Homo sapiens: one gene and its partners. The protein of the gene in region 1 purifies or fractionates together with the protein of each later gene. This does not show direct contact. Each region holds a gene or a part of one and is shown in the gene's direction. Other genes may lie near its edges. The genes, in order: SDE2, SLX4 and HSPBAP1.

Region 1 (3,652 bases):
TCTGCCTTCATATTAATATCTTTTAAAATTATTTAGAAATACCATACCCATTAGACATACAAAAGGCTTCTAATGTGTAAACATTAAACAGATACAAAATGTATTACATATCTCATTTAATGTTTACAACAGCTCTTTGAGGTAGACAGTATTTTAAAGACAAGAATAGTCGTTCATGTTACCTCATTGCAGATAGCCTGAGCTCCCTTGCTCCTCTCTCCCGCCATTATATTTGTCTGGGAGAACCCCAGACAGCATAAATCCATCTCTCCACCTGTTCTGCCCTGGCATCTGGGCAGTGACTGTGATAGAGAACTATAATCACATAGCTCAGTCTCCATACATCCACCAGCCTGGTGCTGCTTGGTAATTCTGTATTTCCTTGGTCCAGAGTGGGCTTTTACTGGGTTACAGGACTGCTTAGAGTATTGATTCATGTAGGCTCTGGGGCAGCTACACAGAATCTGGGGCTGCCCAGCATCTTAGGCTATCTTCAGCAACTTTGCTCATTTTTGCTCATTTTTCATGTATTTATGTCTCCTATGGTGTACTTATATAGGTGTATTAAAAACCACACTCTTGACTCCTTCCTTCTCTACTTCTTATTCCTACCTGCACTTTTTAGGATTGAGGACTACTTTTGATGTTCAATTTAATTTTACCTGTTTAAGAAAGTCAGAAAATGGGACCTCCACAGTTATTTAATCTGAGTCCTGCATAGTCTTCTACCTTGACTCAGATTACCTATCAGAGAAGAAGAAGCAGTTTTTGTTGTCACCGCAAAGACTGAAGTTTCTTCTATATGTGATGATTAGGTAATATTGGGAAAAAATTATACCCAAAATGCATCATGTGAAATGACTTTTTCTCCTAGTAGTTTACATTTTCAATTCAACAAATATTAATTGAACACCCTCTGTTGTAACCAGAGTAATAAAAAGACAGCTAGGTCCCTTCTTGTAACAAACTTAGATTATTATCTCATAAAAGGCATTAAAAAAACAAATTTGTCTCTAGAATGTTCCAGTGGAAAACTTCTTTGTGAAATGCAATGGAGCACTCATTAACACCAGTGACACAGTGCAGCATGGAGCTGTTTATAGTTTGGAACCCAGACTTTGCGGTGGAAAAGGAGGTAGGACCTGAACATTGACTACTTAGTTGTAACACATTTGCAGTCTTTATTCATTTATTTTCATATTCTGCTGCTGACATTTGCTGTCTTTAGCCATGGTATTAAATTAACAACCTTCTTAGTCTCTTTAGTATGCCAATATTGTTTTACCTTATGAATTCTTTTATTTACTTAACCTGATTTTGGACATTTTCTCTCTTATTCTTTTGTTTTCTTTCTTTTGAGACACTGCCTTGTTTTGTCGCCCAGGCTGGAGTACAGTGGTACGATCACGGCTCACTGCAGCTTTGACCTCCTGAACTCAAGCAATACTCCCACCTCAGTTTCCCCAGTAGCTGGGACTATAGGCACATGCCACCATGCGCAGCTAATTTTTGTATTTTTTGTAGAGATGGGGTTTCGCCATGTTGCCCAGGCTGTCTTTTATTTTGGTCGAGGAAGAAATATTGTGTGATACAATTCCCACTTTGTTCAGCTGGATAGCTCTTAGGGAACCTAGGCTCTAAAACTTTGGGGGAAAATTAGATGAAGAGAGATGGCCATTATTCTGTTCAATTTGCTGAATAAAGAGTTTTTTTTCTAAATCTCCTTCTGCTTTAATCAGGATTTTGTCTCGTTTTTGTAGTTCCAAAGGAAGTCTAAAGTTACCTTAGGAAACACAATTGTTTATAAGTTGAGGCAGATTAAGGTTTTGTTTGTTTAACACAACTACTAGGAAAGATAACAAAGAGCGAAAACAATATAAACAGTTGTTGGTATTTCTCCTAATGTAGTAACATGTGATCCCTAAGCTTTCTCAAAATCTACAGTGATTTGGTTTGGTTTTCAGAGAGCTGACATCTCAGACTATATCCAGCTGTTTGAAATTGTATGATTAAGAATGAAGCGTGGGCTGGGCACGGTGGCTCACGCCTGTAATCCCAGCACTTTGGGAGGCCAAGGCGGGCGGATCACCTAGGTCAGGAGTTCGAGACCAGGCTAGCCAACATGGCAAAACCCCGTCTCTACTAGAGATATAAAAATTAGCCAGGTGTGGTGTTAGGAGCCTGTAATCTCAGCTACTTGGGAGGCTGAGGCAGGAGAATCACTTGAACCTTGGAGGTGGAGGCTGCAGTGAGCCGAGATTGTGCCACTGCACTACAGCCTGGGCGACACAGTGAGACTCTCTCAAAAAAAAAAAAAAAGAATGAAGCATGTGGCCAGGCATGGTGGCTCATGCCTGTAATCCCAACACTTTGAGAGTCCAAGGTGGGAGGACAGTTTGAACCCAGGAGTTTGAGACTAGCCTGGGCAAGATGGTGAGACCTTGGTCTCTACAAAAAAAAAAAAATAGCTAGCTGCATCGGTACACGCCTGTAATCCTAGCAACTTGGGAGGCTGTGGTAAGAGGATCCATTGAGCCCAGGAGTTCAAGGCTGCAGTGAGCTTTGATTACATCAAGCCATTGCCCTCTAGCCTGGATGACAGAGCAAGGCCCCATCTCTTAGGGGGGATAAAAAGAATGAATGAATGAAGCATGTTATATCAGCCAGTGGAGCTTAAAATTGCCTTTCCTTCTAAACTCATTGAAAAATCTCACTATATACTTTTTAAGTTCTTAATCTGAGAATCTTGGGATCTCTGTGATTGTGTAAAGCTTCTTTTTTTTTTTTTTGAGACAGAGCCTGGCTCTGTTTCCCAGGCTGGAGTGCAGTGGCACGAGCTCAGCTCACTGCAAGCTCTGCCTCCTGGGTTCACGCCATTCTCCTGCCTCAGCCTCCTGAGTAGCTGGGACTACAGGCGCCCGCCACCACGCCTGGCTAATTTTTTGTATTTTTTAGTAGAGACGGGGTTTCACTGTGTTAGCCAGGATGGTCTTGATCTCCTGACCTCATGATCTGCCCGCCTCAGCCTCCCAAAGTGCTGGGATTACAGGCGTGAGCCACTGCACCTGGCCTGGGTAAAGCTTTTTAAATATTCTAGCTGTACAGGTATTATACCGGTATGCAAATAACTAACACAAGGATAAATAATTAGGTTTGGGAAGGCTAGGTATTTTATCTCAGAACTATAAAATGAAAGGTGAAAGGCATGAGGTTAAATCAGTCTTTTTACTTTCGCTGCCTGAATTAGAACCTTGATGTTCATCTTTTCTTAAAAAAAAAAAAAAAGAAAGAAAGTAGAGATCATTGTTAATCTTGTGATACAGATTGTTTTCACAAATTCTGCTTTTATCCATCCTTGAACACATTTTAACCTGCTTTCTCCAAATACATCTGCTCAGGTTTTGGATCTATGCTCCGAGCACTTGGTGCTCAGATTGAGAAGACAACCAATCGAGAAGCTTGTCGGGATCTCAGTGGAAGGAGACTACGCGATGTCAATCATGAAAAAGCGTAAGATGCCCACCTTTTTTTGTGTTTTTGAGGAGAGACATATACTTTCCTATTAGTAGTGATTATACATATGCCACGCATATTGGAAATGGAAACTTAAAATATTTACATCCAAATTTATTATCAGATTTAACCTTTTCCA
Region 2 (3,615 bases), on another chromosome or scaffold:
GGGTGACTAAGAATTTGCATTTCTAACCAGTTCCCAGGCAGTGCTGTGAGAACAGCTGCAGGAGGCTGCACAGCAGATCTGAGGTGGGCTTCAGGACGACGCTGCGGCCACAGGAAGAATCGTGCTTTTCTCAGGAGACAGAGCCTGCCGCTTTCATCGGGGGCTCAAAGGGCTCCATGGTCATAAAAGGCAGAAGAACCAAAGTCTGACTGTTTCCAATGTGTCACCAGGCTGGAGTGCAGTGGGGCTATCTCGGCTCACTGCAACCTCCACCTCTCGGGTTCAAGGGATTCTCCTGCCTCAGCCTCCCGAGTAGCTGGGATTACAGGCACCCAGCACCACGCCCAGCTAATTTTTGTATTTTTAGTAGAGTCGGGTTTCACCATGTTGATCAGGCTGGTCTTGAGCTGCTGACCTCAGGTGATCCGCCCACCTCGGCCTCCCAAAGTGCTGGGATTACAGGCGTGAGCCACCTCGCCCAGCCTATTATTTTTTAAAGTAACAGCTTTATTTAGATATAATTCACATACCATAATATCCACCCTTTTAAAATGGACAGTTCAGTGCTTCTCAGTACATTCACAGTGTTGTACAATTGTCCCCACTCTCTAATTCTAGAACATTTTCATCATCTCAAAAATCCTGTACCCATGAGCAGTCTCTCACCTTCCCCTTCCCCCAGCCCTGGCAACCAAGAACCTTTCTGTCTCTATGGATTTGCCTGTCCTGGACATTTCATATAAACAGAGCCATATATAACTAATATGTGGCCTTTTGTGTCTGTGTCTGGCTTCTTTCAGTTAGCATACAGTTTTCAAGATTCATACATGTTGTAGCATGGATCAGTATTTTATTCCTTTTTATTCTTTTTTTTTTTTTTTGAGACGGAGCCTCTCTCTGTTGCCCAGGCTAGAGTGCAGTGGCACGATCTCGGCTCACTGCAACCTCCACCTCCTGGGTCCAAGCGATTCTCCCGCCTCAGCCTCCCGAGTAGCTGGGATTACAAGCGCCCATCGCCATGCCATGCCCGGCTAATTTTTTTGTATTTTTAGTACAGATGGGGTTTCACCATGTTGGCCAAGCTGGTCTCGAACTCCTAACCTCAAGTGATCCACCCACTTTGGTCTCCCACAGTGCTGGGATTACAAGCCTGAGCCACTGTGCCTGGCCTGTTTTTGAGTCAGGGGTCTTGCTCTGTCACCCAGGCTGAAGTGCAGTGGCGCAATTACAGCTCATTGTAGCCTCGACCTCCCAGGCTCAAGTGATCCTCCCACCTCAACCTCCTGAGTAGCTGGGACTACAGGCAGCTGCCACCATGCCCAGCTAATTTTTTTTTTTTAGTAGAGACTGGGTCTTGCTATGTTGCCCTGGCTTTGGGCATACATTCCTTTGTATGTCTAATACCCCACTGATGGTATGCCACATTTTGCTTATCCATTCATCTACTAGTGGACACACGGGTTGTTTTTAATTTGTGGTTATTAATAATGCCACTTAGGAATATTGATGTGCAAGTTTTCGTGTAGACATGTTTTCCTTCTTCTTGGTTCTGTACTTAGGAGTGGAATTGCTGGGTCATATGGCAACTGTGTTTAGCATTGTGAGGAACTGCGAGACTGTTTTCCAAAGTGACTGCACCATTTTAAATCTCCACCAACACTTGTTATTCTGTTTTTGTTGTTGTTGTTATTGTTTTGAGACAAGGTCTTGCTCTGTCGCCCAGGCTGGAGTGCAGTGGCGTGTTCATGGCTTGCTGCAGCCTCAACCTTCCTGGCTCAGGTGATCCTCCCACCTCAGCCTCCCGAGTAGCTGGAACCAGCCACAAACAGCTGCCCACATTGGTGACTTGGGCCACCACACCCTGCTAACTTTTTTTGTATTTTTTTTTTTTTTTTTTTGTAGAGATAGGGTTCTGCCATTTTGCCCAAACCCTCTGTGTTTTTTGTTATGGCCATCCTAGTGGGCGTGCAGTGGTATCTCACTGTGGTTTTGACTTGCATTTCCCTGATGACTAATGATGTCGGGCACCTTTTCATGTGCTTATTGGCCATTTGTAGATCTTCTCTGGAGAAATGTCTGTTCACATCCTTTGCCCTTTTTTTTTTTTTTTTTTGAGACAGAGTCTTGCTCTGTCGCCCAGGCTGGAGTGCAGTGGTGTGATCTCGGCTCACTGCAAGCTCCGCCTCCCAGGTTCACGCCATTCTCCTGCCTCAGCCTCCCAAGCAGCTGGGACTACAGGCGCCCGCCACCACGCCCAGCTAATTTTTTGTATTTTTAATAGAGACGGGGTTTCACCGTGTTAGCCAGGATGGTCTCGATCTCCTGACCTCGTGATCCGCCCACCTCGGCCTCCCAAAGTGCTGGGATTACAGGCGTGAGCCACCGCGCCCGGCCCCTTTGCCCATTTTTTAACTGGGTTTTTTTAAATTGATGAATTATTTTTAAAAAGCAAAACTGATGTCTAAGCCTGTTTGAAGAGTATCAGTGTGGCCCATTGTCTCAAGTTGTCACTGTGGGTCAGATATTTTTAAGTTTACATGCATAAGTTTTAGTCACGTGCCGGGCTGTTGGGTTCAGTGGCCCCAGGAGCTCTGTTCACCCGGCACCCGTGTTATACAAGGTGTGGTCCTCAGTGCGTGTCACCGATGCTATCATTGGGAAGCCCCTGCTCCAGACAGGGAAGGGGTGACCACTGTTGCTTTCATGGAGCAAAACGATGCTTGGGTTATCTTCAAGTGCATTATTCCTCTTGGTCACGCTACTGGGATCAGATGTGGGAAATCCGTGTCCCTCATGCTAAAACGTGTGCTTCTTTTGTTTTACCCAGAAGGTGCTAATCGGAAGAAGAACTTGCCCCCCAAAGTGCCCATAACGCCGATGCCACAGTATTCCATTATGGAGACGCCGGTGCTGAAGAAGGAACTGGATAGGTTGGCGGTCTTCAAAGCTTGTTGCCCACAGTGGTCTTTTCCCTCCCATAAGTAACTGGGTTTCACACACCTGGGGGCGGAAGGGCCCCCCGTGTGGTCTCTGGGTCTGGTGGATGCAGCTGGCCTGGGCTTGGGAAGAAAGGTCTGCAGTCAGCTCCTTAGGGAGCATGTGTGACTGCTGGGTGCCGGGGTGAGCCTCCCAGTTCTCTCTGCGTACCATTCCCCAGGGAGGCAACACACAGGATTCGTGCATGTCACCCCTGGGCAGCAGGTCCCCATATTCCATGTAGATGGAAATGGCCCCCTAGCCAGAGCAGTCTGAGTGAGGAGGTCTGATTTTTTTTTTGAAAGACAGAGTCTTGCTCTGTCGCCCAGGCTGGAGTGCAGTGGCGCAGTCCCGGCTCACTGCAACCTCCACCTCCCGGGTTCAAGCGATTCTCCTGACTCAGCCTCCCGAGTAGCTGGGACTACAGGCACACGCCACCACACCAGGCTAATTGTTGTATTTTTAGTAGAGACGGGGTTTCACCATGTTGGCCAGGCTGGTCTCGAACTCCTGACCACGTGATCCACCCGCCTCGGCTTCCCAAAATGCTGGGATTACAGGCGTGAGCCACTGTGCCCGGCGGAGGCCTGATTTTTTTTAAAAGAACATTTAACTCTCACATCCACATGACACTGCTCT
Region 3 (3,652 bases), on another chromosome or scaffold:
CACTGTATGGGTGCTCTACTGTTCATTAGTTCCTTTAAGGATAGATGTTTGGGTTGTTTCCAGTCTTTTGTAATTACAAATAATGCCACTGAATAACCTTGTGCATATGTTGTTTTATATTTGTTGAAGTGTGTCTTTGGGGGAGATCTTAACAATGGATTTGCCATGTCATAGGGTAAATGTATCTTTAATTTTGTTAGGTTTTGCCAAATTCAGCTTCATTGTGATTGTGCCATTTTGCATTTCCATTAGTAGTATGTGAAAGTGCTTGTTTCCTCCACAGCCTCACCAACAAAATCTGTTGTTGAACTTTATTGTTTTTGAGTCATAATTAGAAACCAAGGTCATATGACCCTTTCCAGGTCATAAAGGAATTCACCAATGTTTTGTGTTAGAATTTAGATTGTTTCATGTTTTTTGCATTTCGATCTCTTATCCATTTGGAAGTTTTTCACTAGGATATAGTATAAGTTTGAGATCTAATTTTTTTTTCTTTTTTTTTTTTTAATTGATCATTCTTGGGTGTTTCTCACAGAGGGGGATTTGGCAGGGTCATAGGACAATAGTGGAGGGAAGGTCAGCAGATAAACAAGTGAACAAAGGTCTCTGGTTTTCCTAGGCAGAGGACCCTGCGGCCTTCCGCAGTGTTTGTGTCCCTGGGTACTTGAGATTAGGGAGTGGTGATGACTCTCAACGAGCACGCTGCCTTCAAGCGTCTGTTTAACAAAGCACATCTTGCACCACCCTTAATCCATTTAACCCTGAGTGGACACAGCACATGTTTCAGAGAGCACAGGGTTGGGGGTAAAGTCACAGATCAACAGGATCCCAAGGCCGAAGAATTTTTCTTAGTACAGAACAAAATGAAAAGTTTCCCATGTCTACTTCTTTCTACACAGACACGGCAACCATCCGATTTCTCAATCTTTTCCCCACCGTTCCCCCCTTTCTATTCCACAAAACCGCCATTGTCATCATGGCCCGTTCTCAATGAGCTGTTGGGTACACCTCCCAGACGGGGTGGCGGCCGGGCACAGGGGCTCCTCACTTCCCAGTAGGGGCGGCTGGGCAGAGGCGCCCCTCACCTCCCGGACGGGGCGGCTGGCCGGGCGGGGGGCTGACCCCCCCACCTCCCTCCGGGACGGGGCGGCTGGCCGGGCAGAGGGGCTCCTCACTTCCCAGTAGGGGCGGCTGGGCAGAGGCGCCCCTCACCTCCCGGACGGGGCGGCTGGCCGGGCGGGGGGCTGACCCCCCCACCTCCCTCCCAGATGGGGCGGCTGGCCGGGCGGGGCGCTGACCCCCCACCTCCCTCCCGGACGGGGCGGCTGGCCGGGCAGGGGGCTGACCCCCACCTCCCTCCGAGACGGGGCGGCTGGCCGGGAGGGGGGCTGACCCCCCCGACCTCCCTCCCAGACAGGGCGGCTGGCCGGGCGGAGACGCTCCTCACTTCCCAGACGGTGTGGTTGCCGGGCGGAGGGGCTCCTCATTTCTCAGATGGGGCGGTTGCCAGGCGGAGGGTCTCCTCACTTCTCAGACGGGGCGGCCGGGCAGAGACGCTCCTCACTTCCTAGATGGGGTCGCGGCCGGGCAGAGGCGCTCCCCACATCTCAGACGATGGGCGGCCGGGCAGAGACGCTCCTCACTTCCTAGATGGGATGGCAGCCGGGAAGAGGCACTCCTCACTTCCTAGATGGGATGGCGGCCGGGCAGAGATGCTCCTCACTTTCCAGACTGGGCAGCCGGGCAGAGGGGCTCCTCACATCCCAGACGATAGGCGGCCAGGCAGAGATGCTCCTCACTTCCCAGATGGGGTGGCGGCCGGGCAGAGGCTGCAATCTCGGCACTTTGGGAGGCCAAGGCAGGCGGCTGGGAGGTGGAGGTTGTAGCGAGCCGAGATCACGCCACTGCACTCCAGCCTGGGCACCATTGAGCACTGAGTGAACGAGACTCCGTCTGCAATCCCAGCACCTCGGGAGGCCGAGGCTGGCAGATCACTCGCGGTTAGGAGCTGGAGACCAGCACGGCCAACACAGTGAAACCCCATCTCCACCAAAAAAATACGAAAACCAGCCAGGCGTGGCGGCGCGCGCCTGCAATCGCAGGCACTCGGCAGGCCGAGGCAGGAGAATCAGGCAGGGAGGTTGCAGTGAGCCGAGATGGCAGCAGTACAGTCCAGCTTCGGCTCGGCATCAGAGGGAGACCGTGGAAAGAGAGGGAGAGGGAGACCGTGGGGAGAGGGGAGAGGGGAGAGGAGAGAGAGAGGAGAGAGGAGAGAGGAGAGAGCTGAGATCTAATTTTATCTTTTCCAAAATGGTAATAGGATTGTCAGGACCATCATTTATTTTACAGTTTGTTTTCCCTTCATGATTTGAAATGTCTGTTTAATCATATACTAGATACCTGAACATATCTGGGTCTATTTTGTCCATTGGTCTTTCTGCCTATTTATTTAGTGAGGTCTTATGTTTTAACATCAGTAGGACTGACCATTGCTTTGTTTTGCAGGGTTTTTCTGGCTATTCTTGCCTCTGTTTTTTTAATGTGTTCTTTAAAATCAGCTTGTCTAGCTTTAGGAAAAAAAAAAAAAACCTTTTGATTTTTTTTTTGATCCATATTAAATTTTATCTGAGCTTTATGATGTTGAATTGTTCTGTCCACAAATTAGGTGCCTTTCCATGTATCCAAGTTCAGTTTTGTTTGTTTTTGTTTTTACAGCTGTGTTTTAAAGTTTTCCTCACATAAGCTTTGCACATTTCTTTTAAATGTTTATTCCTAAATACAGTAGTATCTCCTTATCCTCGGGGGATATATTCCAAGATCCCCAGTGGATTACTGAAACCCCGAGTATTACCAAACCCGATTGTAATCAGTCAACACTTTTCTGTTCATGCCTTCCACCTACAAATGTAATGTCTTAGCTAAGATGCAAACTTAATCCATTTTAACTAAGCACTTATGCACTGTGGCTGCAGCTTTTGCAGTTTGAGGTGTGATAGCAAAACTACCATAATTTTTTCTCTTGACAGTTTTGTAGATAGAAGATTTCTTCTTACCATAGACCTTAGTAACCTCAGCATGCTGGTTTTCCTTCTCCTTATTAAGTCGAGAACTTTCACCTTTTCACTTAAAGGAAGCACTTTATGCCTTGTCTTTGGCATATCCAAATTGCCAGCATCACAACTCTTGTACTTTGGGGCTATTATTAAGTAAAATAAGGGTTCCTTGAATATAGGCACTGCAAATACCATGACAGTGATCTGATCACTGAGCTAACTACTGAGTGACTCAGAGGCAGGTGATGTATACTGTGTGGAGTGGAATGGTGAGAGATTTCATCACACTACTCAGAATTGCATGAAACTTAAAGCTTATAAATTGTTTAATTCTGGAATTTTTCACTTAATATTTTCTGACTGAGATTGCCCACGGGTAACTGAAACTGTGGAAAGCGAAACTGCAGATAAGGGCGGACTGCCATATTTCATCTTTTTTTGCTGCTAGGGTAAGGTCTTCTCTTCCATTCTGTCTTCTAACTGGATATTATTAGTGTATATGATAGCTATTGATTTTTGTGTTAATTTGAATTATTTTATTTTGTGGTAGTTTTATATTGACTTTCTGGGGTTTTCAGGTATCTCTCAGATTACCTGAA

What was found.
Region 2: the proteins of SDE2 (region 1) and SLX4 purify together in Homo sapiens (co-immunoprecipitation; one large-scale study listed by IntAct). This does not show direct contact.
Region 3: the proteins of SDE2 (region 1) and HSPBAP1 purify together in Homo sapiens (affinity purification with mass spectrometry; one large-scale study listed by BioGRID and IntAct). This does not show direct contact.

What each region holds. Positions count from the first base shown.
Region 1 is NC_000001.11:225,992,749-225,996,400, reverse strand, and holds part of SDE2 (splicing regulator SDE2), read left to right. Parts: intron 1-1,017; coding exon 1,018-1,135; intron 1,136-3,398; coding exon 3,399-3,510; intron 3,511-3,652. UniProt on the Homo sapiens protein: Inhibits translesion DNA synthesis by preventing monoubiquitination of PCNA, this is necessary to counteract damage due to ultraviolet light-induced replication stress.
Region 2 is NC_000016.10:3,584,084-3,587,698, reverse strand, and holds part of SLX4 (structure-specific endonuclease subunit SLX4), read left to right. Parts: intron 1-30; exon of another isoform or gene 31-763; intron 764-2,827; coding exon 2,828-2,930; intron 2,931-3,615. UniProt on the Homo sapiens protein: Regulatory subunit that interacts with and increases the activity of different structure-specific endonucleases.
Region 3 is NC_000003.12:122,745,234-122,748,885, reverse strand, and holds part of HSPBAP1 (HSPB1-associated protein 1), read left to right. Parts: intron 1-3,652. UniProt on the Homo sapiens protein: May play a role in cellular stress response.